Homo sapiens: one gene and its partners. Changing the gene in region 1 together with any one later gene gives a genetic interaction. Each region holds a gene or a part of one and is shown in the gene's direction. Other genes may lie near its edges.

Region 1 (4,295 bases):
CGTCTTTAATCCATCTGGAATTTTTGTGTCTGTGGTGGAAGTTAGAGGTCTAATTTTACTATATGGTTGGCCAATTGTCCCTTCTCACCCCATCCATTTTCTACTGATTTTTAATGCCATCCCTATAATATACTCGAGTTCTCATATAAGTTTGTTTTTCTTTTCTCTGTTACATTGATCTCTGTGTACTTCCTGGGTCACTGACATATCTGGTAAACTATGCCCCACCCCTCCTTCCCCGCCCCCATCAGCTTTATTCTTCTTCAGCATTGTCTTGGCATTTTGGGGCCTCCTGTTCTTCCATATGATTTTGGAATAAGCCTGGAGACAACTTTTAATGGAATTGCATTAAAATGATAGATTATACATTTATAGGTTAATTCAGGTGCAGTTGCCATCTTCTCATCCTTGAACATGAAATATTTCTCTATTTACATCTTTTTTATCTTTCAATAAAATTACATATTTTTCCTCCTAAAAGCCTTGTACATTGTTTGTTGGATTTATTCCACAGTATCTTATAGATTACTTGTGACCGTTAATGGTATTTTAAAACTATATTTTCTTCAGCCTGGGCAACATAGCGAGACCCCAAAAAATACAGTGCTCTACAAAAAAACAAAATTACCTGGGTGGTACCTGTCTGTAGTCCCAGCTACTGAGAGGCTGAAGAGGGAGGCTCACTTTAGCCCAGGAGGTTGAGACTGCAGTGAGCTGTGATCATGCCACTGCACACCAGCCTGGGTAACAGAATGAGACCCTTTCTCAAACAGTAGAAAATAAGCCAGGCATGGTGGCTCACGCCTGTAATCCCAGCACTTTGGGAGGCCCTAGGCAAGAGGATCACTTGAGTCCAGGAGTTCAAGACCAGCATGGGCAGCATAGTGAGACCTCGTCTGTACAAAAAAATTTTAAAAATTAGACCGGCATGGTGTTGCACGCCTGTAGTCCCAGCTACTTGGGAGGCTGAGGCAGGAGAATGGTTTGAGCCTAGGAGGCTGACGCTGCGGTGAGCCATGATTGCGCCACCGCACTCCACCCTAGGCAACAGAGTGAGACCCTGTCTCAAGAAAATAAATAAAAATAAAATTGTACTTTCTAATTATATGTAGCTAATGTACAGGTATGCTTATTTTTATAAATAAGTTTTTTATCTAGCATTTTTTCTGAACTCTTTTATCTATTTGTTATCTTGTGTTTTCTACAAAGACAACCATATAATCTGCAAATTATGGCAGTTTCTTCCTTTTAAATCCTTATAACTTTTCCTTATTGCCCAAATTAGAACCATAATACAGTGTTGACTAGAAGGTGTGATAGGTACAACATTAGGATGCTCACTGGTTTTTTTTGTTGTTGTTGTTTGTTTTTTTTGAGATGGAGTCTTACCCTGTCGCCTAGGCTGGAGTGCAGTGGCGCGATCTCGGCTCACTGCAAGCTCCGCCCCTGGGTTCACACCATTCTCCTGCCTCAGCCTCTTGAGTAGCTGGGACTACAGGTGCGTGCCACCACACCCGGCTAATTTTTTGGTTTTTTGTTTTTTTGAGACGGAGTCTCGCTCTCTTGCCCAAGCTGGAGTGCAGTGGTGCTATCTCGCTCACTGCAAGCTCTGTGTCCCGGGTTCACGCCATTCTCCTGCCTCAGCCTCCCAAGTAGCTGGGACTACAGGCACTCGCCACCATGCCTGGCTAATTTTTTTGTCTTTTTAGTGGAGATGGGGTTTCACTGTGTTAGCCAGGATGTTCTCAATTTCCTGACGTTGTGATCCGTCCGCCTTGGCCTCCCAGAGTGCTGGGATTACAGGCGTGAGCCACCACACCCAGCTGGATGCCCACTGATTTTTAAAGAGAATGCTTCTGGCCAGTCACAGTGGCTCACACCTGAAATCCCAGCACTTTATGATACTGAGGCTGGCAGATCACCTGAGGTCAGGAGTTCAAGACCAGCCTGGCCTACATGTTGAAACCCTGTCTTTACTAAAAAATACACAAATTAGCCAGGCATGGTGGTGGGCACCTGTAATCCCAGCTACTCAGGAGCCTGAGGCAGGGAGAATTGCTTGAACCCAGGGGGCGGAGGTTGCAGTGAGCGGAGATCATGCCACTGCACTGCAGCCTGGGCAACAGAGCGAGACTCCATCTCAAAAAAAATAAATAAATAAATAAATAGAATGTTTCTATTGTTTTATCATTAAGTATAAAGTCTGCTGTATCTATTATTTTTTAAAAATGTGACTTTAAAAAATAGTAGGCTAGGAGAGATGGCTCACACCTGTAATCCTAGCACTTTGGGAGACTGAGGCTGGAGGATCACTTGAGGCCAGGAGTCCAAGGCCAGCTTGGGCAACATAGCAAGACCCTTTCTCTACCTTTTAAAAAATAACAAACAAAAATAAAATTTTAAAAAGTAAAAATAGTATATTGCTTCCCTCCCATTGTTCATCTATCTATCTATGTACATTTTTTTTTGGAATTTTGTTTTGTTTTGTTTTGTTTTTAAAGACAGAGTCTTACTGTGTTGCCCAGGCTGGAGTGCAGTAGCACGATCTCAGCTCACTGCAACCTCCACCTTCCAGGTTCAAGTTATTCTCCTGCCTCAGCCACCTGAGTAGCTTGGATTAAAAAGTCTGTGCCACCATGTCTGGCTAATTTTTGTATTTTTAGTAGAGACGGAGTTTTGCCATGTTGGGCAGGCTGGTCTCGAACTCCTAGCCTCAACTGATCTGCCCACCTTGGCTTTCCAAAGTGCTGGGATTACAAGCATGAGCCACTGTGCCCAGCTATATATATTTTTGTGTTTGACACAGGGTCTCACTCTATCACTCAGGCTAAAGTGAGTGCCTTGGTGTGGTCATGGCTTGCCGCAGCCTCAACCTCCTGGGCTCCAGTGATTCTCCCACCTCAGCCTCCCATGTAGCTTGGGACCACAGGCATATACCACTATGTCCGGGTAATTTTTTTTGTTTTTAGTAGAGATGAGGTCTAAACCCAGGCTGGTCTCGAACTCCTGGGTTTAAGCAATCCTCCTGCCTCAACCTTCCAAAATGCTGCGATTATAGGCATGAGCCACTGCACCTGGCCCCCTCATTAATTTTCTAAGGTCAAACTATCCTTCTAGTCTTGGGCTAAATTCTAATAAGTTGTGTTGGTCTAGGGGTTTTTTTTTTTTGTTTCTTTTTTTTTTTTTGGTAGTTTTTATATTGCTGGGATAAATTTGCTCTTACGTTATTTAGTATTTTTGTATTTGTGTTTGTAAGTGAAATCCACCTAAAGTTTTCCTTTGAACTGTCCAATTTGGTTATCAAGGTTATACTCATAAAATAAGTTGGTTAGTTTTCACTGTCTTTGTTCACTAGAATTGTTTGTATTTGTAGGCTGGGTGCTGTGGCTCACGCCTGTAATCCCAGCACTTTGGGAGGCTGAGGTGGGCGGATCATGAGGTCAGGAGATCGAGACCATCATGGCTAATACGGTGAAACCCCATCTCTACTAAAAATACAAAAAATTAGCTGGGCATGGTGGCATGCGTCTGTAGTCCCAGCTACTCAGGAAGCTGAGGCAGAAGAATCACTTGAACCCGGGAGGCGGAGGTTGCAGTGAGCCGAGACCACGCCACTGCACTCCAGCCTGGGCGACAGAGCGAGACTCCGTCTCAAAAAAAAAAAAAAAAAAAGAATTGTATTTGTAAGAGATTACATACTCTTGCATGTTTGATAACACATAAGGTAAAGGAAAAGAAGGTAGAAATAGGTAAGATTAGAATATTGAGTCATGTGGCAGTATGTTATAAAGGCTGCCATGGAAATTCCAGAGGGAACTACAAGAATGCCTGAGCAGTTTTATGTTCCTGCAGAAATTACCCTTACTATGTGCTGGGCACTGTTACAAATAATTTGTTTAAGGGTATAGTTGAGGTGGGATACCATGAATTTGTGATGGATGCAGTCTGCCTTTTTGGGGGGGGACTTTTTTCTACTGTTTCACTGCCTACCTTCCTCTACTTCATTGTACTCAAGGTAAGCCTCATTATCATCAGTGTTGGCTTTCACAAGGATGCAGTCTCATGACTTGGCCTTTGTAGGAAAACACCATTAGAAGAGTAGATGGTTGGGTAGTGGCTCTCTTCTTCTTCTGCTTAGACTCTTGTCTACTATGAATAAAGGGCTCTATTTGCAAAGGCCGTGATGGGTTGAAGCACATTGAGAAAGAGGCTACTGAAACATAAGTTACCTTTCTCGCCCAGGTGAGATTTCAATGGAAAAAGTGAAGGTAAAGCGTTATGTGTCCGGAAAAAGG
Region 2 (4,295 bases), on another chromosome or scaffold:
AAGGGAAAAACTATTGAGTCTTAAACTTGTTTAATGGTACCATGCAAATTTGCAAACATAAAGGTAGATGAAGTCCTTGTGTCTATAAGAGCTCCCAACTTTCCCAACTTTTTTTCTTTTTTTTTTTGAGACGGGGTCTCACTCTGTCGCTCAGCCTGGAGTGCAGTGGTGCTATCTCGGCTCACTGCAAACTCTGCCTCCCGGGTTCACACCATTCTCCTGCCTCAGCCTCCCGAGTAGCTGGGACTACAGGCACCCGCTACAACGCCTGGCTGATTTTTTTTGTATTAGTAGAGACGGGGTTTCACCATGTTAGCCAGGATGGTCTCTATCTCCTGACCTTGTGATCCGCCCGCCTCGGCCTCTCAAAGTGCTGGGATTACGGGTGTGAGCCACCGCACCCGGCCAAGAGCTCCCAACTTTAAAACAAATATATAAAGTACATTACACATCCTGTGGAATACTTACGAGGCAGTATATAAGTACAAATTTTGTTTTCTTTACACTCAACTCTATGCTACTTTGATATGATACTATCTTTATTGGTGGAGATTCTTTTGCTATTACATGCAGTCAGTTGTCCAACTATTACTCTCTGTTTGAACTACTGTGGAACCCTTGATGTTACTTAAACCCACCTCTCAGCCTGGGCAGCATAGTAAGACTCTTATCTCTCCAAGAAATAAAAAATTAACTGGGTGTGGTGGTGTGCGCCTGTATGTAGTCTCAGCTACTCAGGAGGCTGACATGGGAGGATCACTTGAGCTTGGTAGGTGGAGACTGCAGTGAGCCGTGATTGTGCCACTGCACTCAACCTGGGCGACAGAGTGAGACCCTGTGTCAAAAAACAAATGAAAATCCACCTCTCATCTTTTTTCATTAATCTTGCCAGCATCAGCTAGGGTAATATTATTTGGTACACATGTAACTGTACATACAAACTGATCTCAAGATTGAAATCATGTGACGGTATCTGGTTATAATTACATAGGTGGGGCCTGGTGCGGTGGCTCACGCCTGTAATCCCAGCACTTTGGGAGGCCAAGGTGGGTGGATCACGAGGTCAGGAGTTCGAGACCAGCCTGACCAACGTGGAGAAACCCTGTTTCTACTAAAAATACAAAAATTAGCCCGGCGTGGTGGCAGGCACCTGTAACCCCAGCTACTCAGGAGGCTGAGGCTGGAGAATCACTTGAACCCGGGAGGCAGAGGTTGCTGTGAGCCAAGATCATGCCCCGGCACTCCAGCCTGGGTGACAGAGCGAGACTCTGTCTCAAAAAAAAAAAAAAAAAAAAAATTACATAGGTGATCTAAAGCATGTTTATATTAATTAAACACACACAATTAAACAAAACATCAACAGGACTATTTTCTTAGAACACACGAATTCCTTCTCCCCTAAATATGTGTCTCTAAGCCCCACTTTGAGAAGTACTAATGTAATTAGAGCTGAAAGCCTTCGATTACTGATCTAGATAGAGAAACCTCAGTGATTTCCCCCAGTCACAGAGCTATTAATGGCATATCAAAGATTCATATCGATAATATTTTGTTTTTTTAAGCTGGGACTTTTGTCAGTGCTTCGGATTGAAACTTTACATTGTTTTTAATCATAAACATTTGCTAGAAAGTAGGTATCTTTTCCTATAAGTAGAGGTAGTGTCTTCTAACTTTTCATTAATTATAGTGCATAGAACTAAAACATTTTTCGTTTAAAGTTTTTTATTTTATGGAAATTTTCTAATTATTTCTGTGTGGGTGTGTGAAATAAAATTTTTTTGCTTTTTTAAGACCCCTGGGCATACTCCTTCCTTAAGATGGGATGAGACACCAGGTCGTGCAAAGGGAAGCGAGACTCCTGGAGCAACCCCAGGCTCAAAAATATGGGATCCTACACCTAGCCACACACCAGCGGGAGCTGCTACTCCTGGACGAGGTGATACACCAGGCCATGCGACACCAGGCCATGGAGGCGCAACTTCCAGTGCTCGTAAAAACAGATGGGATGAAACCCCCAAAACAGAGAGAGGTACTTCTAGTGGAGTATGGGTGTGTGGGTGAAATGTTGAGTGATATGTTTACAGACTGAAATGTGTTCTGTTTATTCCTGGGTGGACACGTATAAATAACCAGCTGCTTTTGGGGGACAGATTAAGAATAGAACAGTTCATATGCCTAATTTTTTCCACTTCTTGAAGTGGTTTAAGATTTAAGGAAGAACCTTAGGTAAAAGTAAAGTTAGTAGGCTGTAACCTTTGATTTTGTGTGTTTCTTTAGAGATAGGGTCTTGCTCACTGTAGCCTTGACATCCTAGGCTCAAGTGATCTTCCCACCTCAGCCTTCTTAGTAGCTGAGACTATAGGGGCATGCCACCATGCCTGGCTAATTTTTTTTTTTTGAGATGGAGTTTTGCTCTTGTTGTCCAGACTGGAATGCAATGGCGCGATCTCAGCTCACTGCAACCTCCACCTCCCGGATTCAGGCGATTCTCCTGCCTCAGCCTTCCTGAGTAGCTGGGATTACAGGCATGCGCCACCAAGCCCGGCTAATTTTGTATTTTTAGTAGAGACGGGGTTTCTCTATGCTGGTCAGGCGGGTCTCGAACTCCCGACCTCAGATGATCTGCCCCCCTCGGCCTTCTGAAATGCTGGGATTACAGGCATGAGCCACCGCTTCCGGCCCCTGGCTAATTTTTAAATTTTTTGTAGAGACAATGTCTTGCTTCATTGCCCAGCCTGGTGTTGAACTCCTGGTTTCAAGTGATCTGCCAAAGTGTTGGAATTACAGGCATGAACCACTGTGCCTGACTTACCCTTTGTTTTTTATTATGGAAAAATGTACATAACATCAAATTTACTTTTTTTGTTGTTGTTGTTGAGATGGAGTCTTGCTCTGTCACCCAAGCTAGAGTGCAGTGGTGCGCTCTCGGCTGACTGCAACCTCTGCCTCCCCAGTTCAAGTGATTCTTTTGCTTCAGCCTCCTGAGTAGCTGGGATTACAAGCGCCCACCACCACACCTGGCTACTTTTTGTATTTTTAGTAGAGACAGAGTTTCATCATGTTGATCAGGCTGGTCTCAAACAACTTTAAATGGGTCACCATTTTAGGAATATTCTATTTTAGAACTTGATAGTTTTGAGTATAACTGTTTGAGAATAAAGAATATTATTTTAACAGTGATTAAAATTGTGGTTTTACTCACTCTTTCTTTTTAAAGATACTCCTGGGCATGGAAGTGGATGGGCTGAGACTCCTCGAACAGATCGAGGTGGAGATTCTATTGGTGAAACACCGACTCCTGGAGCCAGTAAAAGAAAATCACGGTGGGATGAAACACCAGCTAGTCAGATGGGTGGAAGCACTCCAGTTCTGACCCCTGGAAAGACACCAATTGGCACACCAGCCATGAACATGGCTACCCCTACTCCAGGTAGAACTGTCTCATTGGACATAATTGTTTTTTTCTCCATAAATTATTTAATTTTTTCCTTTGTGGTATTCTGTGTACTATTAATGTCAACTTCTAGTAAGAATAAGGAGATATACAAATTTAAGTCTTGGTTTGCGTTTATAATATAAAAGCAAATAATAGGATTGATCTTAACTGTCTTTTATCTCAATGTATGTAATAATACAGTCTTGTACTATAGATTATATAAAAATTTGCTTTTCTTGGTAGGTCACATAATGAGTATGACTCCTGAACAGCTTCAGGCTTGGCGGTGGGAAAGAGAAATTGATGAGAGAAATCGCCCACTTTCTGATGAGGAATTAGATGCTATGTTCCCAGAAGGATATAAGGTAGTACATCAAATTTGAATGAGGTGGTATTTAGGATATACATTTATTTTAAATAGTGAAAAAAATTGATTAAGCTTGCATTGGCTTTGCCCAAATTTACTATTGTCATTCCATTCTCTTAGCTATTTCCAGGTATATTTCAGTTCCATATAGAGATGAAAAGAAATGAACAACATGAAACTTTTATTACTTTTTGAAAGACATCTCAAAGACTTGTGTATGGGTCTATCGGTTATACTTTGAGAACTGCTGGTGCTTCAGTTTTCTAGCAGTCCCAGGAATAAGCTCGTTGAGATTGTGGTTATTTTACTTGGTGCTTCACCAAGATTTTATATACTTAAGTTTATGGATTGTCAGTGGACACAAAGAATTTTTTTTTTTTTTTTTTTTTAAAAGATGGAGTCTCACTCTGTTGCCCAGGCTGAAGTGCAGTGGCGTGATTTCGGCTCATTGCAACCTCCGCCTCCCAGGTTTAAGCGATTCTCTTGCCTGAG
Region 3 (4,295 bases), on another chromosome or scaffold:
AGCATTTACTGTGTGTCAGACACTGTGCTGACGTTTTCATGTAATCCTCACAGTAGCGCATGTGCCCAAAGTGGTTAAGCAACTTGTCCAAAGTCTTGTTAGTAATACTAATTCAATACTCAAATCCAGATCTGCTGGACTCCATGCTCCTAAGTTTTGGTGTGTTTGATTGTAAGTTCTTTAATGGAGCATGACCTTCAGGGGCCTCTCAGTTCATCCTGTTTGACTTTTCAGTACCCACACCAAAGACTGGTTCACAGCCCTGACTTGGGAGAAGCAGGATTTGGGTATTGACTCACTCTCCTGCTTTTCTTTTTTTTAATTATTTATTTATTTATTTATTTTTTTAAGCAGGGTCTCGCTCTGTTACCTAAGCTGGAGTGCAGTGGCTGAATCTCAGCTCACTGCAACCTCTCCTTCCCGTGCCCAAGCGATTCTTCTGCCTCGGCCTCCCAAGTAGCTGGGACTACAGGTACACACCACCATGCCTGGCTAATTTTTGTATTTTTTGTAGACACAGGGTCTCGCTGTGTTGCCCAGGCTGGTCTTGAACTCCTGACCTCAAGCGATCCACCTGCCTAGGCTTCCCAAAGTGTTGGGACTACAGGTGTGAGCCACTGCGCCTGGCTGTCCTACTTTTCAGGAGAAAAAATTAGAGGCTTTATTTACATAGTGCTTTGCATTTTATGAAGCTTTTCCATGTGTCTTATTTGATCCTCATAGCATCTGCTTATTCTGTAGACCTCTTGAGATAGCACTGCTTTTGGCAAACCTCTGAACTCAGGAAATGGGTCAGGAGTTTTGCCATGACATCTTATGCTCACTCACATTATAGCTTTTATCCACACTCTAGTGTAATTACCTTTCTACTTCCTGTCTCCACCACTAGAGTAAAAGCTCCTCAAAGGGAAGGAAATATGCTGTTCACTATTGCTTTCTATTACCGATGGATAGCAGATAATGGGCACTCTGTGAATGTCCAGTTAATTAGTTTTGTAATAGAAAAGACACTGATGGGGAAAGCCCTCTTTAGCTCTCTTGACATCCTAATACAATTCTTTCCCCACAGAACAAACAAAAGAAGAGAAGGAAGAAGAAGAAGAAGGTCCTAGACCAGGCCATTGTTTCTGGTAATGTCCCATCTAGCCCAGAAGAAGTGGAGGCTGTGTGGCCAGCCCTGGCTGAGCAGCTACAGTGCTGTGCCCAGGTAGGTGGTTACAGAAACCCTGTCTTTTTTGAGAATAGTGCTCAGGGTATACAATCTGGGTTTTCCACTCCCTCCGCTCCCATAGCTTTATCCATCTCTAGAATTCTGAGCTCAGCATGGACTCCGTGGTTCCCTTTGATGCGGCCTCAGAGGTGCCAGTGGAGGAGCAGCGGGCAGAAGCTATGGTACGGATCCAAGACTGTCTCCTGGCTGGCCAGGCCCCACAGGCCCTGACTCTCCTGAGGTCTGCTCGGTAAGAACCCTGCCTGCTCATCCTCTTGGGCTTTGGGGGAAGGAGGAGGCCATCACTGCGGTACAGTGTTCTCAGTCTTCAAAAGAGAGTTGTCTCATCAAGGCTCTGGGACTGTATACCAACTGACTCCTGGGGCGTTTTGATTGGTTTGTTGGGTTTTTTTGTTTCTGAAAAACATTAAAAAAGCATAGTTAATTGAGAAAAAAATAAAGAAAGCAAATCCTCACTTGACATCATCAATAAGTCCTTGGTAATTGCAGCTTTGAGTAAAATGACCTACGGCATGTTTCTTATAACGTTAAGAGAAAAAAAACTGGTTTTGTTATACATTGTTTCACTTAAAGTGGCAGTATCCAAGAACCTATTGAAGACATTAAGGGCGGACTTAACTTTAATTCTAGTAGCCAAAGATATGCATCATTAACATTTTGATGAGTAACCATCCAGAGGTTTTTTTGCTCCGTTACATGTAAAAATATCGTATATACCTTGTTTTACAAAAATGAAATACTGTACATGCTGATTTATAGTAATTTTTCACTTCTCAGTATATTATGAGCATGATTTCTCATCAGATATATTTCTGTAATTGTTAATGGCTTTAAAACACCATTGTGTGAATATGTACATTTGTTCAACCAGGTGTCAAACATTTAGATTGTTTGCATTTTGTTCTTAGCTGGTTTTTATTGAATTGTGGCTTATGAGGAAAATTTTCCCTGGAGTCTTTGTTTCATTTGAGGTAACAGTTTGCATTCTGTTTCTGGCCAACAAAAGAAATAAGTCTAAATTCCTTCTTCTACTTCGAATTATAAATTTAAAGCCAGATTTCCCCTGGGTAAAGCCTTTTTTCTATCTGTGCTCCAGGGAGGTGTGGCCTGAAGGAGATGTGTTTGGCTCTCAAGACATTTCTCCAGAGGAAGAGATCCAGTTGCTGAAACAAATCCTCTCTGCTCCACTTCCCCGTGAGTCTCCACCCTTCACATCTGTCTCCTTCCAGCTCTTTTCTAGCACCAACATAACAGAGACTCAGTAATCCTCCCTCTGTCTATAGGGCAGCAGGGCCCAGAGGAACGTGGGGCAGAGGAAGAAGAAGAGGAGGAGGAGGAGGAAGAGGAGGAGTTGCAAGTGGTCCAGGTGTCGGAGAAAGAATTTAATTTTCTGGACTACCTGAAACGGTGCGGGCTGAGAGGCCTGAGTTGGTCCTAGAGTGGCGATTGTGCGGCTGTGAGGATGAGCTATGTCTTCCTTATGCTGACATCCTCTCCCTCCTTGTTTTGGTGCAGCTTTGCATGTTCAACTGTCGTTCGAGCCTATGTGCTGCTACTAAGGAGCTACCAGCAGAATAGTGCCCACACTAACCATTGCATTGTGAAGATGCTGCACCGGCTGGCCCATGACCTCAAAATGGAAGCCCTACTTTTTCAGCTGTCAGTCTTCTGCCTCTTCAATCGTCTGCTTAGTGACCCTGCTGCTGGAGCCTACAAAGTGAGGGGATAACAAGGAATGGGGTTCTGGAAGGGTATGGGAACCCTCAGGTAAATAAATAATCTTCAGGAGATAGAAGGTGCTGAGAGGTGTCAAGGGCTGGGAGATGGGAAAACAATGAGAAAGTAGACAGGCAGGTTGAGGGAGCTGCATGGAGAAGGACAGAAGAGAGTGAGTGAGGAGGGGGCAGCTGGGAACAGCTATAGAGAAAATACCTAGAGGGCCAGGTTCGGGTCTGCATTGGACCAGAGAGGCCTCATAGTAACCTCCTTCTCCTACAGGAGCTAGTGACTTTTGCCAAATACATCCTGGGCAAATTTTTTGCACTGGCTGCAGTCAACCAAAAAGCCTTTGTGGAGCTGTTGTTCTGGAAGAACACAGCTGTGGTTCGAGAGATGACTGAGGGCTATGGCTCCCTGGATGACAGGTGAGCTTGAAGTTGGCAAAGGGTGGGTGGGGGTAGGGGAAGTTTGATGCAGAGTCACAGAATGTCAAAGCTGTTAAGAGCTTGCATGTCATTTAGCCCACTGTTTCTTTCCCTATTATGGGTGAGAGAACAGGCTCAGGAGGTGAAATGCTTTACCTAAAGTTATCCAAGAGAGGAGCAGGGACTGGAGCCTAAGTCTAGTGTGTATCTAGTTTCCTTCTCCATCACCAGCCTCCATAGAGGTAGTCACTGTTGGGAGCTGGGTGGTTGCCCAGAGGGAGTCTGTGTGCGACCTCTCCCAAAATGTGCTGGGAAACCATGAGGATTTGTAGAAATGTTTGTCCTCTTTCCCTTAGTATCTCAGCCCCTCTCCTTTCACACTTAGTCTCTTTTTCCCATAATATTCTCAGTCCCTAGAGTCAGAATGGTCAGGGTTCCATTGGCCCAACCTGGAAAATCTCTTAGTTTGACTTTTAGGTTCTTACGTGGAAGGAAAGTGAGGGGAAGGAGGCACACTGTAGGCCTCTGCTGGCTGGCCTCTTTCAGTTACCTGCCTTGTCCTTCCTGTTCTTTTCAGAACTGATCAGAGAAGGCCTTTGGTCTCCTCTTTTTGGGCCAAGAACCTATATGCTCCCTTTCTCCTTTCACCATTCAGGTCTTCCAGTCGCAGAGCACCTACATGGAGCCCCGAAGAAGAGGCTCATCTTCGGGAGCTGTACCTCGCCAATAAGGACGTGGAAGGTGAGAGGCCTTGGGATCTGGAGAGTTTATGAGGAGGGCAGCTTGAGCTGTGGGACCTTCTTTACTGCCTTAGTCCTTCCCCACGCCAGGGCAGGATGTGGTGGAAGCCATCTTGGCCCACCTGAATACTGTTCCTCGAACACGCAAGCAGATCATCCACCATCTGGTACAGATGGGAC
Region 4 (3,500 bases), on another chromosome or scaffold:
GCATTGCCTTTGGCTGTTAGGTATCTCTTGTAATAATCTCCTATTTATTACTTTCATTCTGTTGATTTGTTGAAGAAACAGGCATTTGAGCTGTAAGCTATTCTTTAGAAGAAATTGAACTCCTTTCTAACTGCTTTCTTCCCTTTGTGTGTGTATGTGTGTGTGTGTGTGTGTGTGTATTTAAAACAATCTATCTTTACCCTTGGTGGTAACCAATCTTTACAACTGAAATAAATAGTAAATAGTTTCTTGCCATCTGTTCACCCACATCACTGTTGTTTCATACCTCCTTTTCACAAATCCTAGCATAGGGTTTCTCACTGGATAGGCATTATCTTGTTTATTGAATGAAGAAGGAAACAGACACAAGGTGGTTTGTCCACGTAAGTGGGATTTAGTTATATGGGAATGTTTATGGAAGGCAGGCTATTACTTTGTTTCTCTTTAGTTTGGATCTTTTTTGTCTCATAGGGAGATGCAAGATACATGTGTATTTATCTTATTTCCATGTACTAGAAAATAAGATCCCAAAGGGTAGGGATCTTTCTGTTGCCTTTGCCCTGTGATGTTTCTCAAAGACCTAGAATAGTGCTTGGCACAGAGTAGGTGCCCAGTAAATGTGTTGAATTGGGTGACCCAATAAAAATAAATGCCATAAAGAAAATGTCCCAGGCTGGGCATGGTGGCTTAGGCATGTAACCCTAGTGCTTTGGAAGGCCAAGGCAGGAGGATCACTTGAGCTTAGGAGTTTGAAACTAGCCTGGGCAACATAGTGAGACCTTGTCTCTACAAAAAAATTTAAAAAGAAAAATTATCCAGGGGTAGTGTTGTACGCCTGTGGTCGCAGCTACTTGAGAGGCTGAGGCAAGAGGATTGCTTGAGCCTAGGAGTTCCAGGTTACAGTGAGCTATGATTGTACCACTGCACTCCAGCCTCGGCAACAGAGTGAGACTTTGTGTTGAAAAGAGAGAGAGAAAAAAATGTCCCAGCAACTGAGCATAGGGTATGACTTTAGGAATATATATTTTTGTTCAGTATATATTTATTTAGTATACAGTCCAGTCAATCCCTGCTCTAAGGTTAGGATAATTCTGAGTGGCTCTGGGATCCCACAATTAGCAATCGTGCTTAGATACAATTAGCAATCTTGATGCTCTGAATTTGTGTGTGTGTGTGTGTGTGTGTGTGTGTGTGTGTGTGTGTGTTGGGGAATGTGCAAAATAGATGTGGAACCCATAGTTTCCTTAGACAAGAGTAGGTCTTCTGAGCCCTGCTTAAAAAAAGAATATGGATTTAAATCTGTTGTCCATCAGCTTCTAGGTAGAATTAAAAAAAAATGTATTGATGGTAAGTGGGGTGAGGAATTTTTAAAAAGATACACTGATGTCTGGAGCCATACCTTAAAAGGATTTCTTAGAAATGGATTGAGTTTTTGGGTTGGAGAAACATAGGGCAAAGTTAGGCAGTACTTTTGTCACTTTGAGACTTTCTCTGTTCCTGTGCCTTGAAATAGAAACTCAGTTTCTATGTAATACCACTTCTCTAGTCCATTCTTCTTTAAGTGATGATTCTTGCTTTCTCTTGTAGAGCTAAAGTTGCAGACAAGATCCAGCTCATCAATAATATGCTGGACAAAGTCAATGAGATGATTATTGGTGGTGGAATGGCTTTTACCTTCCTTAAGGTGCTCAACAACATGGAGGTAGGAAACAAATGCCAAGTGGATGTGAAATAGCTCTCCATGATAATAGCAGGTTGTATAAATGTAAAAAGAAAACAGTCTTTTGACATGAGCCCTGAAAATTCCCATTTTTATTTATTTTGGCAAGTCTTTCGTCTTTGCATTGTTCCTTTATATTGTATTGTGTCTGGTTCCTGTCTGCTTTGTGAGGCAGTCTTGTTCTTAGTATAGATGCTGACCTCCATCATTTTGGCTCCCCTGTGTAGATTGGCACTTCTCTGTTTGATGAAGAGGGAGCCAAGATTGTCAAAGACCTAATGTCCAAAGCTGAGAAGAATGGTGTGAAGATTACCTTGCCTGTTGACTTTGTCACTGCTGACAAGTTTGATGAGAATGCCAAGACTGGCCAAGCCACTGTGGCTTCTGGCATACCTGCTGGCTGGATGGTGAGTCACTTGAGTGGGTTGGTAGTGTGAGTGAACAGAAACTCTGTGGTGTCATTTATTCATTGATTCAGCCAATCAACAAGCATTTTAAAACAATCTCTATAGGAGATCTGTCAGAGAGGGCTCTGCATGTTGCAGTGAGTCCCTCATGGAAGAATCCATGGGAGAAAAGCAGTGCTATTGGATTACTGGCCTTCAGTAATGCAGTAATGTGTTGCAAAACTTTGTTGTTGTTGTTTTTTTTTTTTTTTTTGAGACAGAGTCTCGCTGTGTCACCAGGCTGGAGTGCAGTGGCATGATCTCGGCTCACTGCAACCTCTGCCTCCCAGGTTCAAGTGATTCTCCTGCCTAACCCTCCCCAGTAGCTGGGACTACAGGTGTGCACCACCATGCCCAGCTAATTTTTGTATTTTTCATAGAGACGGGGTTTCACCATGTTGGTCAGGATGATCTCAATCTCTTGACCTCATGATCCACCTGCTGCGGCCTCCCAAAGTGCTGGGATTACAGGCGTGAGCCACTGTGCCCGGCCCATTTTTAGTTTTATCTGTTTTTTCTTCATCTGTTTAATGTGTATTAAGTACTTACTGCGTACTGGAGATAGTGTCATGTACTTTCATGGTTTGGGTTGTTTTGGATTATGTTGCTATCTAGAAAGCTATATAAGAAAACTTTCTCATATGAAAAAATTAAGTATACTGATTACAAGCAGGGAGAAATGTAAGTGTATATTAAAGACTAATATAGTTGATTTTAGGGTGCTCCAAATATCATTTTGATTGCTGTATAAAATTGTATCATGTTTTTACATGCTAGTTTGCTTATTTTTCTTTTCAGGCATTCACGTATTATTTAGTTCAGTGTTTCTCAAAGTATGTTCCTAAGACCAGCAGTATCAGTATCATTTTTGGAACTTGTTAAAAATGCAAGTTCTTGGGTCCCACCCCAGACCTACCGAATCAGGAACTGAGGGTGGGGCCAAACAGTCTGTTTGAATAAGCCCTCCTGGTGATTCTCATGCATGGCAAAGTTTGAGTACTACTGATCTAGTTTACTGTCATTCCCAACACTATTGACATCTGTTGTTTTGTGGGGGACTGTTGAATTGTAAGGTTGTTTAAAGCATCCTTGGCCACTAGATGCCAGTAGCACCCTCCCAAGTTGCAACAACAATATTTCTAGACATTGCCACATGCCTATCTATTATGAAGGGGCAGAACTGACCTGGTTGAGAACCATTGATCTAGTTTTCACTAACATAAATAGTGTGGCTAAGAATGTCTTTATTAAATAACTTTTGAGGTTTTCCGTTAGACTTGATCTTCCATACAGTAGAATTTTTGAGTATAAAGGGCATGAACAGGTTTATAAAG
Region 5 (4,295 bases), on another chromosome or scaffold:
TTAGCAACATATGGCTCACTCTTTATTCTTTCCTCTTGTCATCTTTTTTTGAGACAGGGCCTCACTCTGTCGCCCAGTCTGGAGTGCAGTGGTGCAATCTCAGCTTACTGCAGCTTCTACCTTGCAGGCTTAAGCGATCCGCCCACCTCAGCCTCCTGAGTAGCTAGGACTAGAGGCATGCCACCACACCCAGTAATTTGTTATATTTTTGTAGAGACATGGGGTCTCACTGTGTTGCCCAGGCTAGTCTCAAAACTCCTGAGCTTCAAGCAGTCCACCAGCCTTGGCCTCCCAGAGTGTTTGGATTACAAGCATGAGCCACTGCGCCTGGCCAACTCTTGTTTCTTACGATTGCAAGCTGTTTATGACCTGTAAAATGGTTTGGTACGCATCCCCTCAGGCTTCGTTTATGTACTTACTTGTGTATTGTGTTTCTGAAAAAATCGAACCATACATGCTCATCTTTTTGGCAATTCAGAGCATTCTATTGAATGGAAGGTGTGTCAACATTACAATTTTTTCTAGCTGATAGACACAGTGTGGTTCCAGTTATCCTTGTATGTCATGTTATGAATATGTGAATTTTTCTTAGAATAAATTCATAGAAGGAAAGATGCCAAGTTGCTTTTCGCCAGCACGAGTGCTTGTTTACCTACTTAATTCTAAGGTTGAAATTTTTTCTTTTGCATTCTTTCCTACCCATTCCCAAAAATACTTGTAGTACTTGCTGTAATTTTGTAATTTCTAAGCAGTGTTTGGTCTAATCATTATGTACTTTTCTTGTTAGTGACATTTTGGCTAGTATACAGCTCCCTTTTTAAACAACTTTGATTTTATGACAACTTTTCCAAAGTTTAAAACTTTTTTTTTTCCCTAGGCAAATCCTGATCCTAACTGTTGTCTTGGAGTATTTGGGCTGAGCTTGTACACCACAGAAAGAGATCTAAGAGAAGTGTTCTCTAAATATGGTCCCATTGCCGATGTGTCTATTGTATATGACCAGCAGTCTAGGCGTTCAAGAGGATTTGCCTTTGTATATTTTGAAAATGTAGATGATGCCAAGGAAGTAAGTAAAAGCCCGTTCCTTTGTAAACCATCAGTTCTATTGTTAACGCCAAGTTATCAGTGACCAATTGCTAGGATAAGGACAAGGACAAGTCAGTAATACTTCGAACTTTTTCTCCAACCTCTTGTGGAGACTCAAGATACATGCAGAATAACAAAATTTTGTATAACTTGGGGAAGTTGGTCCTACCACCTGCTTTATTAGTTGCCACCTATTGGGGTCAACTATACCCCAATTCCGCCAGGATATGTAGTCAGTGTTTACACTGGGTTCACATTCTAGAGTCAAAAATAACCAAAAGCAAAGTTATGATGCAGAAGGAAAACATTGTTCCTTTTTTGGCTAGTGAATGATGTCATATTTGGATTTTGATTTGTTTTGAGGCAGAATATAGAGTCAAGATTTGAAATGTGGGGCTAGACCCCATTTAAGAAATTCAGATTTTAGGTACATTAAGGATGGTAGCTAAAGTCATCTCCAAGTATAGAGAAGAGGAAGAACTGAGAAACACTTAATGACAAACGGAGTTTCACTCTTCTTGCCTGGGCTGGAGTGCAATGGCGCGATCTCCGGCTCACCGCAACCTCCGCCTCCTGGGTTCAAGCAATTCTCCTGCCTCAGCCTCCTGAGCAGGTGGGATTACAGGCTACCACACCCAGCTAATTTTGTATTTTTAGTAGAGACGGGGTTTCTCCATGTTGGGTCAGGGTGGTCTCGAACTCCCAACCTCAGGTGATCTGCCCCCCTCGGCCTCCCAAAGTGCTGGGGGATTACAGGTGTGAGCCACCATGCGCGGCCGCCCATTTCCTAATTAAATTTTTGCAGTAGGATCATAGCTCTCGGAAAATAGCATAAATTTTATCTTAATCTCTAGTGCCAGAAACTGCCTGGGCGTAAACACTAGCTTGAACATCTGAACTAGAAGATAGCATAGTATTGGAATTAGAAACTTAAATTCTATTTAGGTGAAAGGATGTTTCCTCAAATTATGAACAAACTTTAATGTGTTTGAAACGGGGTATTTTTATTTTTTAAATGTATGCTGTTAATACATACTTTGGGAAAAGGAACTATATGTACTTAAGGCTGTGCTTCAGTCTTAGCTTTTGGCTTCCAGAGAAGGGCTAAGAAAACTTCCAAGGGTTAAATAATGTGTTCAGGTTTCAGTCATAGGATCTCAGTCGCAACTATTTAACTCTGTTGTTTTAACCCAACAGCAGCCAGATGAATGAGTTGGGGCCCTATTCCAATAAAAGATTATTTTGGGGCATTGGAATTTGGATTTTGTGTGTTTCTTCACTTGTCATGAAATACTGTTTTTCCCCCTAGTTATTTAAATTTTTAGCTTATGGGTTATACAGAAACAGCCAGCTGGCCAGATTTGACCTACAGGCTATAGTTTGCCAATTGTGTGCTGCTTTGGAGCTGGAAATACTGTCAGGATCATAGTTAGGTAAAATAATTGTTTCAAGTTTTTATGAGTAGCTTTTACAAATGAACATTTAGTAGAGGGAACAACACATTTGTAAGTTGTAGACCTTACGTTCTGGCTAACATTAAGATAACTTAATGCACCTAACTGAAATGTCCAGTGGGATCTTACTCATAGCCACAGGATAATTAGTGGCTTTGTTCAGGATGTATGTAACAATTTATTTACCTTTTGAAGGCTAAAGAACGTGCCAATGGAATGGAGCTTGATGGGCGTAGGATCAGAGTTGATTTCTCTATAACAAAAAGACCACATACGCCAACACCAGGAATTTACATGGGGAGACCTACCTAGTAAGTTTATTTTCAAAATAAATATAATTGGCAGTTTTTCACTTGTCAAAGAAACACTTGTATTAGTGGAAAGTCTTCAGCACTTAGGTTTGTGCCATAAACTTGACTGTTGATTGATTAAATGCTCCTCATTAGGGCATTTTTCTCATAGTAGAAGTTCAACCATTACAGGTAAAACTAAATCTTAGTCAAGTCCATTTTTAAATTTTTTGTTTGTTGTTGTTTGGTTTTGTTTTTGTTTTGTTTTGAGACGGAGTCTTGCTCTGTCGCCCAGGCTGGAGTGCGATGGTGCAATCTCAGTTCACTGCAACCTTCGCCTCCTGGGTTCAAGCAGTTCTCCTGCCTCAGCCTCCCGAGTAGCTGGGACTACAGGCGCGTGTCGCAACGTCCGGCTAATTTTTTGCATTTTTAGTAGAGGCAGGTTTTCACCATGTTAGCCAGGATGTTCTCGATCTCCTGACCTCATGATCTGCCCGCCTCGGCCTCCCAAAGAGCTGGGATTACAGGCGTGAGTTGCTGCACCCGGCCTAAATTTTCTTAAATAGAGCAAAGTGATACTATTTTTGTTTCCTCTTAGAAATATGTGGGATATGCAGATTGACCTCTGGCAGGATCTGTGTGCCTCCTTAACCAAAGATTTTTAAAAATAGGTTTATATATATTGAAACAAGGGAAAGGGCAATGTTTGCTCAATATAGGTGAGAATTTTAACAGGAATAATTTTCATTTTCCAGTTAATGTGTCAGAAAAGGCCTACTAGTAGATATAAAAACTCATGTCCAGAAAGATAAGGGAGGTCACCTGAATATTTTTTTCTTCATAGTGGCAGCTCTCGCCGTCGGGATTACTATGACAGAGGATATGATCGGGGCTATGATGATCGGGACTACTATAGCAGATCATACAGGTAAGTTATGAGGTAGAAAGGTCAACGTCTGAATCTCAGTACAGTGTACAGAGCAGCACTATGCTTAAGTTTTAGCCTTTGTTAAAAGCTTTGCTTTAGTACTTTTACTCGAGAAATGCAGAGTAGAAAGTTAAATCAGATTCTAAGGTTCTGTGTCTTAATCAATTTAATGTGTAACTGGATTTCTGTTCAAATATTCTAGAATATAAATGGGATTTAAATGATAACTTGGAATATTAATAATAAAATGTGTTTTATTTTTAAACATTGAATGAGGCCAGGCGCAGTAGCTCACGCCTGTAATCCCAACACTTCAGGAGGCCAAGGCAGGCAGATCACCTGAGATCCAGCCTGGCCAACATGGTGAACCCCGTCTCTACCAGAAATAAAAATTTAGCCGGTTGTGGTGGTGCACGCCTGTAGTCCCAGCTACTGGCAGGTGAATTGCTTGAACCCGGCAGGCAGAGGTTGCAGTGAATTTAGATTGCACCACTGCACTCCACTGTAGGCAACAGAGCGAGAGACTCAAAAAAAAAA
Region 6 (4,295 bases), on another chromosome or scaffold:
GTGCTGGGATTACAGGTGTGAGTTACCATGCCCAGCATAGAGTTTTTGAAACCTTGAAGTGATCTGACCTGAGATCCTGGCACTTGTGCCTCATTATCACTCTCCCTTTTTTTTTTTTTGAGATGGAGTCTCACTCTGTCACCTAGACTGGAGTGCATTCATGCGATTTTGGCTCACTGCATCCTCTGCCTCCCAGGTTCAAGCAATTCTCATGCCTCAGCCTCCCAAGTAGCTGGGGTTACAGGCACGCACCACCATGCCCAGCTAATTTTTGTATTTTTAGGAGAGACGGGGTTTCACCATGTTGGCCAGGCTGGTCTGGAACACCTGACTTCAAGTGATCTACCCACCTTGGCCTCCCAAAGTGCTGGGATTACAGGTGTGAGCCACTGCACCTGGCCTCATTATCTCTTAAAGCAGGCCTGAGCCAGAGAAGAGAGTTAGCAAGGTCCTAAAAGAACAATTTATATTTATTATTTCATAATACTCAGCACATTACCCCTTTGAAGGTTAGGAAACTAAGACTCAGAGAAATAACTTACTTAATGTCACAGCTAGTAAGCAGCAGAAGCCCTTTTGAGTTCTGCCCTTGAAGGCTGTGGAAGGGAAGATTTGAGGTGGAACTAAGCTAAGTGGGTTACATTTGAGATTTTGCTTCTTGGTGGTAGGGAGGGTCCCAGACTAGGCCTTGGAAGGCCCTGTCAGCCTCTATCTCTCCCTGACCCCATGGGTATCCAGAAGGCTAGCTAGAAAGTCCACAGTGGAACTTAGCCTCGGCCCTGGAGGGTGATGAATGTGGAATTTTTCCAAGTTATTTCTGATGACTTTTTTTTTGAGATGGAGTCTTGCTCTGTCACCCAGGCTGGAGTGCAGTGGTGCGATTTCGGCTCGCTACAAACCGCCGCCTCCTGGGTTCAAGCAATTCTCCTGCCTCAGCCTCCTAAGTAGCTGGGATTACAGGCGTGCGCCACCATGCCTGGATAATTTTTGCATTTTTAGTAGAGTTGGGGTTTCACCATGTTGGTCAGGCTGGTCTCGATGTCCTGACCTCGTGATCTTCCCGCCTTGGCTTCCCAAAGTTCTGGGATTACAGGCGTGAGCCACCGTGCCTGGCCACATTTCTGATGACCTTTTGGGACTGACACTGACTGACCACACAGCAGGATGGCTGAGCTCAGGCCAATATAGCCCTCCTGGGCCTATGCATATCAGAGACCATATGACTTCTTAAATACAAATGGGAAGTATATTTTATTAAATAGTCTTTCAAAGCCTGGGCCCAGGGTCAATGGGGTAGAAGATGTTGATAGTGTAATGTTTGGGGGCTATACTCAGTCTCCTTCTTTAGACAGGGAAACTGAAGTGTGGCCACACTTCTCCAAGCAAGGCCCTTTTCAGAGTCTTTCCAGGGCCTTAGAGATACTTGTACTCTGAGGCCCCAACCCTGGGGTTTCCTGTGCCTTTTTCAGATTGACGCGTCATGCCTTACGTGGGAAGGACAACAGTTCCAGGGGAAAGCTGCCATTGTGGAGAAGTTGTCTGTAAGTAGGGAAGAAAGCCAGGGTGCAGGTGGCTCCTTTCCCACCCCTTCTGGCCTTGGTTCTCCCACCTCCCACTCTCTCTCTTGTAGAGCCTTCCGTTCCAGAAAATTCAGCACAGCATCACCGCGCAGGACCATCAGCCCACTCCAGATAGCTGCATCATCAGCATGGTTGTGGGCCAGCTTAAGGTAATGGTACTGCCACAGTGGTAGGGAGGGGTGGGCAGGCAGAGGAGAGTCTTGTACCCCTGCTTTCCCTGTGGATGTGACCTGCTTATCTAGGGACACCCAGACAAAGTGACTGTCTAGAGCTGCGTAGTTCAGTATGCTAGCCATTAGCCACATGTAGGTGGCAATTTTTAAGTTATATTAATTAAGATTAAATAAAATGTACTTCTTCGGTTGTACTAGCCATATAGAACATTTTTGTGACTGTAGAAAGTCCTATTGGCAGACACTGGTCTAGAGCCTTTATCTGGAAAAGGGAGAAGTATAGGAGTAGGATGGGACTGGGGTGCCAAGCCACTAGGCTCCCACTCTGCCCTAAGGTCAAGGTGGACAGGCTAGCTGGGTGCGGAGAGGCAGTCCACTCCTGCAGCCCTTGCTACCACTCCTCAGGCTGGCTGCTGGCTCCTTGCCTGCTGAGCAAAGCAGATTCCTGGAACTCCTATTTCTTTTTTTTTTTTTTTTTGAGACGGAGTCTCACTCTTGTTGCTTAGGCTGGAATGCAGTGGCACAATCTCAGCTCACTACACTTCTGCCTTCCGAGTTCAAGCAATTCTCCAGCCTCAGCTTCCCAAGTAGCTGGGATTACAGCTGCCCGCCACCACACCCAGATAATTTTTTGTATTTTTAGTAGAGACAGGGTTTCACTATGTTGGCCAGGCTGGTCTTGAACTCCTGACCTCAGGTGATCCACCTGCCTCGGCCTCCCAAAGTGCTGGGATTATAGGCGTGAGCCACCTATTTCTCTTTGCATTTTCCTTCCTCCTTCTCAAGACCTATTATTCTCAGAGACTTCCTGTGGTCCCTCAGACCCCCCAAGAACTCTCCAAGGACCTGTTGTGCTTCAGCATATTAAAGTCAGATTCTGGGCTGGGCGCGGTGGCTCACGCCTGTAATCCCAGCACTTTGGGAGGCCGAGGCAGGCAGATTACCTGAGGTCAGGAGTTTGAGACCAGCCTGACCAACATGGAGAAACCCTGTCTCTACTAAAAATACAAAATTAGCCAGGCATGGTGGCACATGCCTGTAATCCCATCTACACGGGAGGCTGCGGCAGGAGAATCGCTTGAACCTGGGAGGCAGAGGTTGCGGTGAGCTGAGATTGCACCATTGCACTCTAGCCTGGGCAACAAGAGTGAAACTCTGTCTCTAAATAAATAAATAAAGCCAGATTCTGTTTACAAAAACACCCTTCTTCCCAAAAATAGCAGGACAAATTGGCTGCCCCTCGGCCTGGGCTTGTGTCTTACAATAACATGGTCACATGCTCTCTTTCTCTAGGCTAGCCGGGACAGGGCTTCCTGAGTCCAGAGTGGGTGTGTAGGTGGTCCTGTGGGCCTCTGCAGTGGACGCAGAGGCACCTGCTTTCTGGCCTGGACTTTCCTGTCAGTTTCTCCTGCCTGTTCAGGATGTCCTGCTCAGTGCCTGTGCCTGAAGAGGCACAGAATTCAGGAGGTCTCTGTAGGGAGCTCATTGTTCACTTTCTCAGGCAAAGGTAGTAAACACTGCTGCTTCCCACCGGCTTCAGGTTCTTCCTGGTGATTCTGTCCAATTTGGAGCTCCCAAACAACTGATTTGCCTCCTTGATGACGATAATTCCCAGAAAGCAGGTGATGTTAGAGACAGTGCTGGTTAGCTAGGCTCCTATTTCAACTAGGTCTCATCCTAGTTTTCTGCAGTTTGGCTGCAGGTTTCTTGCCCTTTTTTTTCATCTCAAATACTGTTTATTACATGACAGGAAACATCATTGGATAGTGAACCTATGTTTTCAAGATTGTTTGCAGTTTTTTTGATACTCTATAAGTTACTTGGTAAATACTATGGGATTCGTTTCAAAATTGTGATCACTTGTGTCTGGAGATATGTGCTTGGAGGCAGGTACATCCTCTGCTCTTTTGCTGTAGCTAAGGGTGAATTATTGTGCAGTTTAAGCACACATAGCACACATAGGCGTGGCTGATTGTTGGCCTACATGTGCCCAGGGCATTGTTTCATACATTACATCAATTCACATTCACAAGTACCCCTTGGCTACACTGGGATTTGAGTTCAGGACAGTAGGGCCTGATCCTAAAGTCAACATTTTTTTGCCCTCTTCTCCTACCACTGAATTCCCTTCCTGTTTCTTGATCCCCTTACTGAATCCTCTTTTCTCTCCTCATAGGCGGATGAAGACCCCATCATGGGGTTCCACCAGATGTTCCTATTAAAGAACATCAACGATGCTTGGGTTTGCACCAATGACATGTTCAGGCTCGCCCTGCACAACTTTGGCTGACCTCCTCTCAGCTAGGCACTCACGCTGTTTCCTCCTCCCTCCTCTTCCCAATACTATTCCCACTCCTCCAGATGCTCCAAATATCATGCACAAATGAGCAGGGCCGCGGTGGGAGTGGGCGCAGTGCGCTGCTGCCACTGAGGTGTTGTGCATGATGTTTGGATGCTAGACTAGTTGCATCTGACGGGAGAAGTTTGTGTTGTACCAGCGCATGCCTTGGAAAGACTTAAGTAATGCAAAAGGTTGTCCTTT
Region 7 (4,295 bases), on another chromosome or scaffold:
ATATAAAATCCAAAAACTAGGCAAGGTGCAGTGGCTCACGCCTGTAATTCCAGCACTTTGGGAGGCCAAGGTGGGAGGATCACGAGGTCAAAAGTTTGAGACCAGCCTGGCCAACATGGTGAAACCTTGTCTCTACTAAAAATACAAAAAATTAGCTGGGCATGGTAGCGTGCACCTGTAATCCCAGCTACTCAGGAGGCTGAGGCAGGAGAATCACTTGAACCCAGGAGGTGGAGATTGCAGTGAGCCGAGATTGCACCACTGCACTCTAGCCTGGGTGACAGAGCGAGACTCCATCTCAAAAAAAAAAATAAAACAAAATCCAAAAATTTATGAAAAATCAATTAAGATAAAATTTTCATGATTAAAAACTATTGTTGCAATAAAGAATGGGATTATTCTGATCTTTGTGACGAGAATATACGCACATATATTATTTTAAGGAGTTATTTTGTGCTGTAAGTTAATTTTATAAATTTTCTTTCAACAGATACAGGGTATATAATCCTTCTCTCAAAAAGGGTAACTTTAAACACATGTATTCTTGTCTTTCCTGTTATGAAAATAGTATGTAATCATTAAATAACATGTCTAAAAGATAGAAAAGTAGAAAGGGGAAAAAAATTAACCATATTGCTATTACCTGCAGACAGCTGCTGTTAATATTTAGCTGTATTCATCTTTTTTTCCCTATACGTATTTTTCTTTTCCTTTGGAGACAGGGTCTTACAGTGTCACCCAGGCAGGAGTGCGGTGGCATGATCATGGCTCACTGAAGCCTTGACCTCCCCAGGCTCTAGTGATAATGCCACCTCAGACTCCTGAGTAACTGGGATCACAGGCACATGCACCATGCCTGGCTAATTTTTTGAAATTTTTCTGGAGACGTGTTTGGTTTTGATTTTTCTTCTTTATTTTTTCTTTTAATTGTGTGTATGTGTGTGTGTGTGTGTGTGTGTGTGTGTATCAGTGTTTAAAACTTCAGGTTAGAATATTTTCGTTTTCATTTAAGTTTAATCATTACATATGTGTCTCCAGAATAAGATTGAAAAATAAGCTCCCTTACTGTTTTATATGGCAGTATGATTAATGTGGGTTTTAAAGAATGATTTCTTAAAGCATTTGTTCATTCAGCAGGCATATTTTGAGTGTCTTTTGTGTGTTGTAGGCCAGGTGCTGGGGTACAGTAATGAGCAAGCAGTGGTCCTGTCCTTACAGAACTCGCCTGCCAGGGTATTCATGGTAGATACATTAGAAATGGAAGTAAAACTCATGCACGCGTAATTCACTGTGAAACATTCCATACACAAAAACAAAATCTCATACCCTGTTGTTATCACTTAATCACAGTTTATAAATCTGTTTATATGTGTGTTTATTTTTTTAATATCTGTCCTTACTACTAAATTGTAAGTGCCATGAAAGCAGGGACCATATCAATTATTCTTAGCACCTGGCTTGTTCTGTGTCTGACACAGTGAGTTTTCAAGTATTTGATGAATGAATAAACAGTAGCTATTTTGATAATGAGTAGCTTCTGACCTGTTTTTCTGAAATCCTGGTAAGATTGATTCTAGAGGAGCGGGGGTATAGCGGTAGCAGTAGGAGAGGGAAGAATGAACAGACGAAATGCTTTACTTGCCATATTTTTCATAATATCAAGTAATACGTGACATAGATTCAATGTTTGGGTTTTTTTCTTTGACAGAATTATAGTGAACATTATTCACAACACTTCCGATTACCATCCAAAAGTTTTGCGATTTTTGAATGTGGCTTTTGATGGCACAGGCGACTGCTTAATTGCTGGGGACCACCAAGGAAATATTTATGTTTTTGACTTACATGGAAACAGGTAAGCAGATACCATTGATATCTACGTTCTTTAACAAGTTATTAATTCACTGACTGTTTTCGTACCTGCTATTCATTATTCATTCAGAAAGATTTATTAAGTTCTATTATATTTCAGGTACCTTGCAAAATACTGTCATAAGTGCTAAAGGACGAAAGTGGGAAAAAACAGAATGATAACATGGTTCACATTTTAAAGAATTAAAGTGCTGGTTTTAATAGTATCTCTAGTAGTTTCCTTTTTTTTTTCTTAAATTTAAAAATTTATTATTGCTAATTTTTTTTTTTTTCTTCAGACGGAGCCTTGTTCTGTCGCCCAGGCTGGAGTGCAGTGGGATGATCTCAGCTTACTGCAAACTCCGCCTCCCAGGTTCCAGCTACCGCACCCAGCCCATAGTTGCTAGTTTGTCAATTTCTGGTACATCATGAGGCAATGTAGAAATAACACAGTTTTCTTTGCACATTGTTGTTGTGGGGTGCCAGATCTAAGAATTTTAAAGAATTGATTTTCAGCTGGGTGTGGTGACTCAGGCCTGTGATCCAGAAATTTGGGAGGCCAAGGCGGGCGGATCGCTTGAGGTCAGGAGTTCGAGACCAGCTTGGCCAACGTGGTGAAACACTGTCTCTACTAAAATACAAAAATTAGCTGGGTGTGGAGGTGCACGCCTGTAATCCTGGCTATTTGGGAGGCTGAGACAAGAGAATCACTTGAACCCAGGAGGTGGAGGTTTCAGTGAGCCGAGATCGTGCCACTGCCACTGCACTCTAGCCTGGGCGACAAAGCAAGACTCCATCTCAAAAAAAAAAAGTTGGTTTTCACTCTTCTTCCTCTTCTCTTCCCTTGTGAAACAATTTAGTCCGAAAGCAATTAGGTGGGATTGATGGAGATAGGTATTCATGCAGCGGGGCTAAGAGGGAAGGACAGCTGCAGCAGCCTAGCAGAGAGGCAGAGGGTGTCTGCATAGCGAATGGGGCAGTGATGGGAAGCTAGTTTAATACAGGGGGCTTTGATCAACTAAATATATTAGGGATAATGAGGGCCAAGTTTCTCACTCTTAGAAAAGAGACTTACATATATGGAGGGCAGAAAACTAGAATAAACCCCATGGTATTGTATTGGAATTAGATATATCAGTTTGAACCCCTGGTTTTGAATATATAGAGATAGATATAGCACTAAATAGAGGTATGTACACATATATGTACACATTCCCTAGCTTCGTACACCCAGAGGGCCTGGGAGCAACAGCATGCCAGCAGCAATGAATATACCCGGTGTTGAGTTCTTGTTTTCAAAATACCACTTTCTACTAAAAAGAATCAAGGATATTTGCAAAAATGGCCAATTTCAGAATGCAGACAGGGAAAGTACAGGATGAGCCTGTAACATTTTGTAGCCAGAAAGAAGGAATTGTTCAAAGAATGTTCGGGATGTGTCAAAAAGACACAGTTGCCAGCTTGAAGGAGCTCCCTCTGGTCATATTGGAGATGGGTCATGCATTGAATAAAATTGAAATCTATGAGTTCATGTTGTAACCAGTATACAAACAGTTTAGTAAGGCATGGATATTGAATAGTCACAAAGTACCCCCCCACAAAATACTTATTAATTATAGAAGAAAAAAAATTATACAATGAAGAAGCCTAGCAAACACTGCCTTAATCAAATGACTAAAGTTAATATAACTAGTAGTGGAATGAATCAAAATTTGTGTGCCACCTGATAGGATGCAGTGAAAAGAACACGGCATCATTTCTGTGATATTCCTCCCAAGATATATAACCTGAATCTAATCAGTGGGATCATCACACAAAGCTAAATTAAGGACATCTAATAACAAAACTGTGCTGATATCTCTACAAGGGACAAGATCATGCAAGTTGGGTAAAGACTAAAGAACTCCTAATCTGAGGGGGATGAAAGGGACATGACAAAGGCATGAATCTGGACTGATCCTTTTGCTATAAAGAACTTATTAGGAAAATTGGCAAAATTTGATTGGAGTTTTAGGATTAGATGGTGGTAATGTATAAATGTAATTTATTGGTGCTGATGGTTATATTGTGATTATGTAGGAGAGTTTTCTTATTATGGGAAACTTGATCTTGGTAACTTAAATAGTTAAAGAAAAGATGTGACATATAATTTACTTCTCTGTGATTCATTAGGTAAAAATCTGTAAATCATTGTTTCTGCCCTTTACCAAAAAAGTAATGGGCCCAACTTTTCTACCCTTTATTCTTGCTTAACTTACCTCACCAATTCCTAATCTTAAATCAGTACCACTGTCTATTTGCTAATACTTCTGAAAAAAATAAAAATAATTGTTGATTGATTTCATGACTAATGAACTTCAACATCGAGGACTCTTTGCACTTCATTTGCTTGTCTACGGTTACTTAACGTTTCCTATTCTCCACCAAGTGTTGCAAACCTTTAC

Evidence for each region.
Region 2: changes in MFAP1 (region 1) and SF3B1 together harm fitness more than expected from each alone (negative genetic interaction), as found in Homo sapiens cells (one large-scale study listed by BioGRID).
Region 3: changes in MFAP1 (region 1) and TIMELESS together harm fitness more than expected from each alone (negative genetic interaction), as found in Homo sapiens cells (one large-scale study listed by BioGRID).
Region 4: changes in MFAP1 (region 1) and PGK1 together harm fitness less than expected from each alone (positive genetic interaction), as found in Homo sapiens cells (one large-scale study listed by BioGRID).
Region 5: changes in MFAP1 (region 1) and TRA2B together harm fitness less than expected from each alone (positive genetic interaction), as found in Homo sapiens cells (one large-scale study listed by BioGRID).
Region 6: changes in MFAP1 (region 1) and NUTF2 together harm fitness more than expected from each alone (negative genetic interaction), as found in Homo sapiens cells (one large-scale study listed by BioGRID).
Region 7: changes in MFAP1 (region 1) and TBC1D31 together harm fitness more than expected from each alone (negative genetic interaction), as found in Homo sapiens cells (one large-scale study listed by BioGRID).

Annotation. Positions count from the first base shown.
Region 1 is NC_000015.10:43,817,396-43,821,690, reverse strand, and holds part of MFAP1 (microfibrillar-associated protein 1), read left to right. Parts: intron 1-4,242; coding exon 4,243-4,295. UniProt on the Homo sapiens protein: Involved in pre-mRNA splicing as a component of the spliceosome.
Region 2 is NC_000002.12:197,407,504-197,411,798, reverse strand, and holds part of SF3B1 (splicing factor 3B subunit 1), read left to right. Parts: intron 1-1,791; coding exon 1,792-2,029; intron 2,030-3,217; coding exon 3,218-3,430; intron 3,431-3,679; coding exon 3,680-3,801; intron 3,802-4,295. UniProt on the Homo sapiens protein: Component of the 17S U2 SnRNP complex of the spliceosome, a large ribonucleoprotein complex that removes introns from transcribed pre-mRNAs.
Region 3 is NC_000012.12:56,421,927-56,426,221, reverse strand, and holds part of TIMELESS (protein timeless homolog), read left to right. Parts: intron 1-1,069; coding exon 1,070-1,207; intron 1,208-1,308; coding exon 1,309-1,460; intron 1,461-2,327; coding exon 2,328-2,425; intron 2,426-2,514; coding exon 2,515-2,638; intron 2,639-2,746; coding exon 2,747-2,948; intron 2,949-3,229; coding exon 3,230-3,375; intron 3,376-4,030; coding exon 4,031-4,116; intron 4,117-4,205; coding exon 4,206-4,295. UniProt on the Homo sapiens protein: Plays an important role in the control of DNA replication, maintenance of replication fork stability, maintenance of genome stability throughout normal DNA replication, DNA repair and in the regulation of the circadian clock.
Region 4 is NC_000023.11:78,121,248-78,124,747, forward strand, and holds part of PGK1 (phosphoglycerate kinase 1), read left to right. Parts: intron 1-1,587; coding exon 1,588-1,702; intron 1,703-1,947; coding exon 1,948-2,127; intron 2,128-3,500. UniProt on the Homo sapiens protein: Catalyzes one of the two ATP producing reactions in the glycolytic pathway via the reversible conversion of 1,3-diphosphoglycerate to 3-phosphoglycerate.
Region 5 is NC_000003.12:185,920,567-185,924,861, reverse strand, and holds part of TRA2B (transformer-2 protein homolog beta), read left to right. Parts: intron 1-877; coding exon 878-1,066; intron 1,067-2,735; coding exon 2,736-2,851; intron 2,852-3,674; coding exon 3,675-3,758; intron 3,759-4,295. UniProt on the Homo sapiens protein: Sequence-specific RNA-binding protein which participates in the control of pre-mRNA splicing. Can either activate or suppress exon inclusion. Acts additively with RBMX to promote exon 7 inclusion of the survival motor neuron SMN2.
Region 6 is NC_000016.10:67,866,871-67,871,165, forward strand, and holds part of NUTF2 (nuclear transport factor 2), read left to right. Parts: intron 1-1,469; coding exon 1,470-1,541; intron 1,542-1,630; coding exon 1,631-1,729; intron 1,730-3,929; coding exon 3,930-4,043; 3' UTR 4,044-4,295. UniProt on the Homo sapiens protein: Mediates the import of GDP-bound RAN from the cytoplasm into the nucleus which is essential for the function of RAN in cargo receptor-mediated nucleocytoplasmic transport.
Region 7 is NC_000008.11:123,075,403-123,079,697, forward strand, and holds part of TBC1D31 (TBC1 domain family member 31), read left to right. Parts: intron 1-1,708; coding exon 1,709-1,855; intron 1,856-4,295. UniProt on the Homo sapiens protein: Molecular adapter which is involved in cilium biogenesis. Part of a functional complex including OFD1 a centriolar protein involved in cilium assembly.